2 linked regions of the Homo sapiens genome follow. Changing the gene in region 2 together with the main gene of any one other region gives a genetic interaction. Each region holds a gene or a part of one and is shown on either strand. Other genes may lie near its edges.

Region 1 (4,352 bases), on a different chromosome or scaffold from region 2:
TCAGCCTCCCAAATAGCTGGGACTACAGGCATGTGCTACCACGCCTGGCTAATTTTTTTTGTATTTTTAGTAGAGATGGGGTTTCACCATGTGGGTCAGGCTGGTCTAGAACTCCTGACCTCAAATGATCTGCCCACCTCGGCCTCCCAAAGTGCTGGGATTACAGGCGTTGAGACACCGCGTCCTGCCAAAAAATTATGGTAATGTTTTATTGCACGTTTGGGTAGAAATGACAAAGTTTTTGGGGTCCCTGCCTTTGAGATGCTTTTACTTGTAGGTGGTGGAGACAATCAAACACAAATTGCACAAAGCTATAGGAGAGGGGGGATAGACCAATATTTATCTAAGACCGCACTGGATGTTAGATATTGTCAACTTATAGATGTGAATATATTTTTACATTTTTCACTAGGGAAATGTTGCTTTTGGACGTGTACATATAGAACTAATTGAAGTATTGAAGCCAAATCTGGGAAGGTTTCTTTTAGGAAGAAAAGAGCAAGTGGAGACACAATATTTAAGACTTTTGGAATTGAAAGGCATAAGGGACAGATAAAATTACGAAGCTGGTTTGAAGGGAATACAGATAGAGGTTGTTGAGTAGTGTTAGGGTCAGTTGTGTTTGTGTAGACACATGATTACAGTTCAAAGAAGCAACTGAGAAGAGTGTTCCTGAGAGTAATTTCAGATGACTGGGGAGAAATTACATTTTAGGTAAAAGCTGTATGCCTGGATTAGGATTTTGTTTTTCTAGGGAACCAACATTTTTATTATATCGTGGCTATCCAGGGCTATACAGAAGGAGGAGTGAAAAAGAAGATGCTTAGTGTGTTGAAAGTGGCTTCTTACAAAAAAGAGTTTAGAAATGGGACAGTAGACTTTGCTTTGGATGTGAAATTTTAGGGCAACAATTGGATACTGGTGCAGTTTCAAAACAGCAAAATAGTTTAGCAGGTAATATACTGAAAATGTAAAGTTGGAATTATTTTCAAAGTATTTAGGTTTCCCAGAGTACTGATGGAAAGTGAAGAGCTGAAAAGTGGGTATTTTTAGTTAGGGGGAAAATCTGAATGAATGAGACACTACCTAAAATAGATGTTTTAGAAGTGGATAAGAGTTGAAGTTAAAAAGGAATGAGCAGGCTTTAAACATGGCCACCAGTTTAGTCCCAGGGTATATTATTCTGTATTTTTGAAACAAGCTAAAATTTTTTTTTTTTTTTAAATAGGGTATATAGGTCCCTTGAGATTAAGTTCAGAAGAGTATACTTAATAATAATTTCATTGTTAAGGAATTTATAAATAGAAGGACAGATTTGTTTCCTCAAATTCATGTTTTAAAGTTCACTGTGCATTATTATCCTACGTTTGGTCTTGATATGACGAAGTGAGGCCAAAAATAGCTGACAGAGAAGGCTGCTTCCCTTGTTCACAGTTGGTGTGTGTCTTTGTGTCCCATACAATGGAGGGGATATCCCTGTGTAGGCACAGTAGTGCTGAACATGCTTTTTTTTTTTTTTTCCTTTTAAACTTTTTATTAAAAAAAAGCAACTTGGCATTTAAAAAAATGTAGACATTTTTGCGGCTTGCATTTAGTATTGACTTTAACAGGATTAAGGATTGTGAGGAAGGAAATATATATTCACACTTTTTTGTGTTCCTTAGTTGGAATTCTGCACCTTCCTAGTAGCTTCTCTGACTTCTTAACAGTGATTATTCAAATGGCAGAAACTCTGGGGAAGAGATGTTTCAACAAGGAGATAGGTCTAAGGTGATTCTAGGGTGAAAATATAGGGATTGGATTATATGCCATATGGAGGCCTTCTCTTGTCATCCTCCACTTTCCACAACATTTTTTGTGCAGTCGAAGCCATGTTCAGATGAATTTTAGAAGGCAGCCACTTATAGTTAATGTTATTTACTAGTGAGGACAGTGGGAAGAGTGGTAACTTCATGTACTTTGCCTTGGCAACTTTTGGATTGATAGGGAATTAGAGAGCCTTGAGGGTATATGTTTGTGTGTGTGTGTGTGTTTTAGCACCCACCAGATGACCCCAAAGGCCATGCATAGGCTCATTTCATTGTACTTTGGAGATGGTTCTTGGAGAAGTCTTCTGGTGCTTCTGACATCTCATTGTGTAGAGAAAGAGTTGGCAAACTATTTTTGTAAAGGGCCAGTTAGTAAATATTTTAGGTTTTACAGGCCACATGATCTGTCACAACTTTCAATTCTGTTCTTATAGTGTGAAAGCAGCTGTAGACAACAAGGAAGTGAATGAATGTTGCCGTGCTCCAATTGGCCCATAGGCCGAAGTTTTTGGACTCCTGGTATAGACAACTGCCAAATCCACCAACAAACAGTATGAGCTTTATTACACTACAAAGCCAGGACTGGCTATTTTTGGTGGTCTTTGTTTTCTAGATGAGATGTTTTTCTCTGAGTTCATTTAAAATGATTCTGCATAAAGCACATACTCTACTGTACAAAATACTTTTGCCTTCATGGTGATGAAAACTATGGATTGAGGGTCGGGGTGATACCATCTTTAAAGGGATGCAGCTAAAAAGTAGGGACTACCTGCATTTCTTATCTAAAGATAACCACAGTTGGCATTTAGTGATATACTGGCTTTGTATCATGGCCAAAAGTATCTGTAAAGAAGCTTGTGGGCATACTTTTGAAACCTTCTGAAAATAAATGTAAAGCATTTACTTCGTGTGTAAAATTAGAAGTGTCTATGGTTGGTTTGAATAATATGAGTCAAATTATAAGAGCATTAAAGTTTGATACTGCTATCTATTAAAGTCTTAATCTCTTGCAGTGGCTAATTCAGTGTGTAGAATTACACATCGCAATTTTTGTTTTGTTAATTTCAAGTACTAGTGTATATTAACAAATCACTTAAATCATTTAAATGTGTACTTTAAAAAGCTTTGATGTATATACATATATATACGTATATATATATATGTACACGTATATATATACACGTGTGTGTGTGTGTGTGTGTGTGTGTGTGTGTATTTTTTTTTTTTTTGTGACGGGGTCTCATTCTGTCACCCAGGCTGGAGTGCTGTGGTGTGATCTCAGCTCACTGCAACCTCCACCTCCTGGGCTCAAGTCATCCTCCTACCTCAGCCTCTCGAGTGGCTGGGATCACAGGCATGCGCCACCATGCCCGACTAATTTTTTTGTATTTTTGATAGAGATGGGTAACAACTTTTGGATTGATAGGGAATTAGAGAGCCTCGAGGGTATATGTGTGTGTGTTTTAGCACCCACCAGGTAACCCCAAAGGCCATGCATCATGTTGCCCAGGCTGGTCTCTTAACTCCTGAGCTCAGGTAATCCATCTACCTCGACCTCCCTCAGTGCTGGGATTGCAGGCGTGAGCCACCACACCTGGCCAGCATTGCTATATTTTTAAGAGTGAATCTTTCTCACATGTGTTGTTCAGAAAGTGTAATTCACTTTGTGCAATTTTACATTACAGTTAATATTAAAATATTTGTTTCATATGTCAGCAGATACCAACATTGGATGATGGTATATTTAGTTTCATAAATCCTATTTATTTTAGGATTCCCTTGTTTATGGCAGGGGTGGAGATTACTCTTGCAATAATGATCACTTTTTAGTTAGTTTGAAACCTGCTTTTAGTTTATATGTAGTATTTCTACATATTGTTACTTAAATTGAACTAACAATTTACTTTTTAATTTTTCTTCTTCCTTTTAAAAAAAGAGTATATAATCTGACAATGTTAGTACATCTTTTAGAAGGTCACTATAAAGTTGCTTTCCCTATTTATTTGGAAAGGATTATTTCCTTATTATTTTAAAAAATCTTTTAATTTTTGTCTTTTCAAGTAATTTTATCATTGTCCCAAGCCTAAGGATGAGTGGCAATTTAAAAGACACAAGGTGTGCATCTTCTATCTGCAAATACTCCAAACAGAAATTATTCCAGTTTGTTGATACTTTGAGTGGACCAGGGAAAAATGTGTATGTTTTTAGTGTAACTGAATTGTCATTACAAAAAGATGAGTAAAGTTGCTGTTAAATAATGAATTCTTGCTGTTAATTTGTCCTGTTCTTAGACTTTCCCCCATTAAGTATAATGGGGGAAAATGTACACACACACACACACACACAAAGTATGTATGTGTAGATATACCTAGCGTATTGTGCTAGATGTTCATTTCTGCATGACTGCTCTGGAATTTAGGCAATATTAAAAGACCTTACAAAATATTTTTAATATCACTTAATATCCTGTTTTATGTCTTAATGTACTTTTATGTTTTTGCTGCTTTCTGATGATACCTCCTTGGTACTTCCTCATGATACCTT
Region 2 (5,007 bases):
CAGAGTAGGGCTTCCCCAAGATGCGGCTGAGGATGGGAGTATGGTGTGGGCGTCACCACCTCTCTCGATGGTCTCAAACTCCTTCTCCTCGCCAGTCATGCGTGGGATGCGGGCACACGGCGTGTTGGTGCTGGTGGCCACAGCATACACCTGTGGGTTAGTGAGGGTCACACACCAGTGGCCCGGCCAGGCCCAGAAGGTCCCTGGTGGGGTGGGGGTGGGGGCAGACCTTAGACTCCACGTGGTAAGCCACATAGTGGGCCGTGCAGCGCAGCGGGATCTTCCTGACAGGCCATGGGGCATCATAGGACAGGTAGGCAGGCAGGACACTGATCCTCAGCTCGCCCTGGGGTGGGGGCACAGGGGTCAGGGGATCCAGGGCTAGCCAAGGGCAGGGGCAGGCAGGCCCAGGCCGCCAAGAGCCCTGGGATGTTGCCCTCAGCTCTGTGGGAGCAGGGGTGGGTGAGGGGCAGCTGTGTCCTGGCGAGGTCCTGGAAGGGGCTGCCACTCAGCCTCTGGGGCTCCTCCTGTCCATTTTCCCACGCTCAGCTGGGGCTAGGGGTGCTGGCCACAGGGGATGGGAAAGCTAGGCCAGGAGGGCACTGGAGGCTGCAAAGGGCAGCCCACAGACTGCCATGCTGGGGACTGAAAACCAGGCAGAGGGAGCCAGGGCTGCCCTCTTTCATGGACAGTCCTGAGTCCTCAGGCACCCAGGAAGCACTCACCGCATCCCAGGCAGGGTCTCAAGTGACCTGGTGGTGTGGTGGCTTAAATAGGGAACCAGGATGAGAAAGCCTGTGTGCCCTCCCAAAGTCACAGAGCAGCCAAGGGGCAGAGCTAGCACTCACGTCAGCTCTCCTGAGAAGTGTGGAGGCCAGGCCCTGCGAGGGCTTGCCCGGCGAGCCGGCAGAGCAGTGGTGGGGACCCCAGGGGCTGCAGCCCCAGCTCCCAACCACCCCTTTCCAGACCTTTGGAGCAACCAAGTCACAGGTTCCACCTCCTCGACCTCAACCCCATCGCCCTCTGGACACTCCTTCCTGGTCCTCAGGGTGGAGCCAATGGTCCCTTCTCCTGTCCCCTCCCCCTCAGCCCCCAGCTGGGGCAGCATCAGCCAGTGCTGCTGGGAACCGGCCGGGCCCCACCTGTCTGTTGAAGTACAGGAAGCCGCGGGGACAGTTGACATTGTGGAATGGAGCGAAAGAGTCGACCGGGCCGTCGATGGCCATGGGGTGTAGCCGCAGAGCCCCTCGGCCGGTCACCAAGAGCCAGTGAGGGGAGGGGCCGCAGATGAAGACCTGGGGGCAGGCACCGTGAGGATGCTGTGGATGAGGATGCTGCGGATGAGGCCGCGTCTCCCTTCTACCACAGACCCCTGCAAAGGCGCTGGCCTACCCCTGAGTAGCCATAAATATCCTCGAAGTAGCGGAAACGCGCCACGCGGCCCCGGGCCCCAGCCCCCTCCTCTGCGCCGCCACCTTCTGCTTTCTTCTTGGATGGCTTTGGCTTCTTCTCACGGAAGTTGATGTTGTGAGGGACCTGGGGGGGAACCATGCAGGTCCTCCAGGGGCTGCCGGTCTGAAACCCACACCTTGTACCACACCCACCCCACGCCCCAGCAGTCCAGCCACTGGCACCTTCTTAAAGCGGACTTTGAGATTGCCCTGGCCGAGCTGAGAGTCGTGGGGGAAGGCCTCGTAGATAAGCAGCTCTTGGTCCACATGCACCTGGCAGGATGAGGGGAGCCATGGGGGAACGGGCAGGGCCATGGAGAACATGGGATGGGCCATGGGAAGAGGTGGGCTGTGGGTAAGGGGCGGGGCTGAGATGGGGTGGAGCCATGTATGGGAAGGGGCGGGGCTGTGAGGGAGATGGGGTGGAGCCACGGGAAGGGGCGGGGCCGTGGGGGAGATGGGGTGGAGCCACGGGAAGGGGCGGGGCTGTGGGGGAACGGGCAGGGCCAGGGGGAAGATGGGAAGGGGAGGCCAGGCCAGGCGCACTCACCAGCAGGTAGGGCCTGCTCTGGCGGCTGCCCAGCGCCACCAGCAGCACCTCCTTGACGAGGGGCAGCTCCCCCTGGCGCGTGGCCTCCTCCCTGCGGGCCTCGCCCTGTGTAGTGGGCTGTCCAAAGGAGCTGTCCACAAGGACCCGCTGCCCCACAGGGAAGTTCTTCACCAGGAACACCAGCCGCCAGTCGGGAAGCTGGTAGATCTGCAGGGTGGGCAGCAGTCAGTGGAGGCAGGTGGGTGGAACCCGCTGGGCCACAGTGCAGGGCACCACCTACCTCCATGGTGCCATTCTCCCGCACCAGCAGGCACCAGTGGGTAGGCTCTGCCCGGAAGGGTGCAGGGTCCCGGTCAGCAGGGGGCTGGCTGCTTCTTCGGGCCTCCTCCTTGCTGGGGCTGAAGAGGGAGCCCGAATCCCCATACAGCATCTCCTCCTCGTCATCCACTGTGGGGCTGGGGGCCAGCAGAAGGTCATGGGCGGCCTGCCAGCCCCAGGGACCCAAGCCCCTACCTGCGCCCCCAGCCCCCACGCACCTAGTCTCTGAGCCCAGGCCCTCGGCCTCCGGGCCACTGCGGCCCCCGAGCTCGTCACGGGCCCCACCCAGGCGGCTCTCAGTGGTGAACATGCCGCTGAGGTCTCGGTACAGGCACAGCGTAATCACCTTGGACTGCTGCGGGGAGAGGGGTGGGCTCAGCGGCGGGCAAGGGGCAGGGACAGGAGGGCGCCGGGAATGAGGGGGCCTACATGGTGCAGCGGGGGCTTGTGCAGCGCCAGGCGGTGGTGGCGGCCACCGTAGGAGTCACTCTTCAGCAGGAACATGGTGACGTGGCCCTCGGCACTCATGATGACCACATAGGGGTCGGCCACGGCGCACTGCACGATGGGGGCGCCCAGGTCCACGGGGATGAAGTGCAGCTGATTCACTGTAGGCATGGGGCAGTCAGCATGCGCCTCCCCACCACCGTCCCCACCCACCTACCTCCTTCCAGCAGGCGGATGCCCAGGGCCCAACCACCTCCCCCCCACCGTCCCCACCCACCTACCTCCTTCCAGCAGGCAGATGCCCAGGGCCCAACCACCCCCCCCACCTACCTCCTTCCAGCAGGCGGATGCCCAGTGGTGACACTTGGACAATGTAGCGGTTGTCCCCGATGTTCCCAGCAAAGACCGTGGGGCCCTGAGTGGCGAAGCCACTGGTGTCCAGCTCCATGATCTCCTGCCCCGTCTGCAGGATCTGCGGGCGACAGCTGTGAGGGAGGCGCCCCCCGCAGGGGACCCCAGCCCCAGGTCCCAGGTCCCAGGCCCTGCCCCTCACCATGGTGGAGTCTTCCCGGCTCAGAATCAGGAATCCGTGTCTGCGGCCGTCGTCGTCTGCTTCAGGGGTGGTGCTGGGTTCCTGCTCTGTGCCCTCCCCCTTGGGATTGTCCTCCTGTCAGGGCCAAAGGGGGGCAGGCTGGAAGCCACAGTCCAGTGAAGGCAGGCACGCAGGTGCGACCTGGGCACCCCCGGCCTATGAGAAGGCAGCGCCGGTCCCATCCCAGGGCCTCCCTGCAGCAGGCTCGCACCTACCTCCTCCTTACGCACCGGGGCGATGACTGTCCACATGTCATAGCAGCCGGGAAGCTCAAAGGTTGTCACCACCTGGGGCCGGATGCTCTTCTAGAATGATGATGGGGTGGGGGTGTGATGGGGGTGTGAGCCCACCCAGGTCCCACCAGGAGGCGCCCGCCCCCTACCTGCCCACACACCTGCAGCACCGACAAAGCCCCGTTCTTCCCGTGGCCGGAGCAAACCACAATCTCCAGGTCCGGCTCGGGGCTGTTCTGAAACTGCACAGGACTCGGGGGTGAGGACTATGCCCCCCACCCCCCCTCACACTCCAGCCCCTGCCCCCAGCCCCGACCCCAACCCTGGGCACCTCTTCAGAGAGGAAGGCAGGCTCGCCCACGGCGGCATTGGCACAGGGTCCAATGTTCAGGATGCTGTCACACACCTGCGGCACAGCAAGAGTCAGGGGCCCGCTGGGGGCGCTGGCTGGGACGGGGGCCCTGCTGCCTCAATCTCACCTCAAAGGAGTAGGTGGCCAGCTGTGTTCCCGACTGGGCCTCGCTGCCGTACACTTCAATCTCGTCCACCTCATCCTGCGGCACCGACTTACCCGCAGCTGCACACAGAGAGCCCACTTGAGCGCAGCCCTGGGTCACCTGGCCCCGCTCCTGACCAGCCCTGGACCGGCCCTCACCTGACCAGCCGGCCGTCGCATCCACTCGCTTCTTCTTTGAGGGAGGCTCTTCCTGTGAGGCAGGAGGGGCACTGAGTGGCATGCCACAGCAGTGCCCACATGAAGGGTGGTGGCCCAATGGGCCCAGGAAACCCACCTTGTCGGCAGCCTCACGGACAGCACTGGCCGGGGGCTCCTGCAGCTTCTCCGTGTACTTGAGGAGGAGGGAATTGCCCAGGCGAGAACCCAGGAACAGGTACCCGGGCTCCATGGTGACCATCTGAGGGAGGGCAGGTGTGTGATGGCTGGGCCGGGTCTGGACCCAGACCCAACCCCTAGTCCCAACTCACGCTGGTGGTGAGGACGCTGGCGGCCGCCTTGTCAAAGTGGAACGCTCGGACACTGCGCATGCCGTCGGTGATGAGGGTCAGCACGTAGCTGGGGGCAGGGAGAATTCTGAGTCGGGGATGGGGACCCTGGGGGAGTGAAGGGGGCCAGGGGACCCTACAGGACTTGTGGGGGGCGGTGTGGGCAGAGTTCATGGGCGGGGGAGGGGCTCACATCTCGCCGCCCTTGAGGGAGATGACCATCTTGTCGTAGGAGATGAAGGTGGCCTGGGCGCAGTCCAGGGTGATCCGCACACCCTCCTGGGTGCCTGTGGGGTGGGTGGTCAGGCCGACTAGGCAGGCCCAAGCCGTCCCCGGGCCCCCCCCGCCCCAGCCACCCCACACTCACGAAGCGGGAAAGCCGTGGTTCCTGTGGTGAGGCTGTTGAGAGCCACG

Evidence for each region. Genes that interact genetically often act in the same process or in processes that back each other up.
Region 1: changes in CPSF1 (region 2) and FBXW7 are lethal when combined (synthetic lethality), as found in Homo sapiens cells (one study listed by BioGRID).

What each region holds. Positions count from the first base shown.
Region 1 is NC_000004.12:152,528,741-152,533,092, reverse strand, and holds part of FBXW7 (F-box/WD repeat-containing protein 7), read left to right. Parts: intron 1-2,242; exon of another isoform or gene 2,243-4,352. UniProt on the Homo sapiens protein: Substrate recognition component of a SCF (SKP1-CUL1-F-box protein) E3 ubiquitin-protein ligase complex which mediates the ubiquitination and subsequent proteasomal degradation of target proteins.
Region 2 is NC_000008.11:144,395,206-144,400,212, forward strand, and holds part of CPSF1 (cleavage and polyadenylation specificity factor subunit 1), read right to left. Parts: coding exon 4,961-5,007; exon of another isoform or gene 4,881-4,960; coding exon 4,787-4,880; intron 4,664-4,786; coding exon 4,576-4,663; intron 4,506-4,575; coding exon 4,383-4,505; intron 4,299-4,382; coding exon 4,247-4,298; intron 4,169-4,246; coding exon 4,071-4,168; intron 3,998-4,070; coding exon 3,923-3,997; intron 3,834-3,922; coding exon 3,753-3,833; intron 3,664-3,752; coding exon 3,574-3,663; intron 3,434-3,573; coding exon 3,320-3,433; intron 3,239-3,319; coding exon 3,097-3,238; intron 3,026-3,096; exon of another isoform or gene 2,984-3,025; intron 2,928-2,983; coding exon 2,749-2,927; intron 2,675-2,748; coding exon 2,538-2,674; intron 2,457-2,537; coding exon 2,282-2,456; intron 2,209-2,281; coding exon 2,002-2,208; intron 1,725-2,001; coding exon 1,635-1,724; intron 1,537-1,634; coding exon 1,393-1,536; intron 1,296-1,392; coding exon 1,143-1,295; intron 347-1,142; coding exon 230-346; intron 151-229; and 2 more. UniProt on the Homo sapiens protein: Component of the cleavage and polyadenylation specificity factor (CPSF) complex that plays a key role in pre-mRNA 3'-end formation, recognizing the AAUAAA signal sequence and interacting with poly(A) polymerase and other factors to bring about cleavage and poly(A) addition.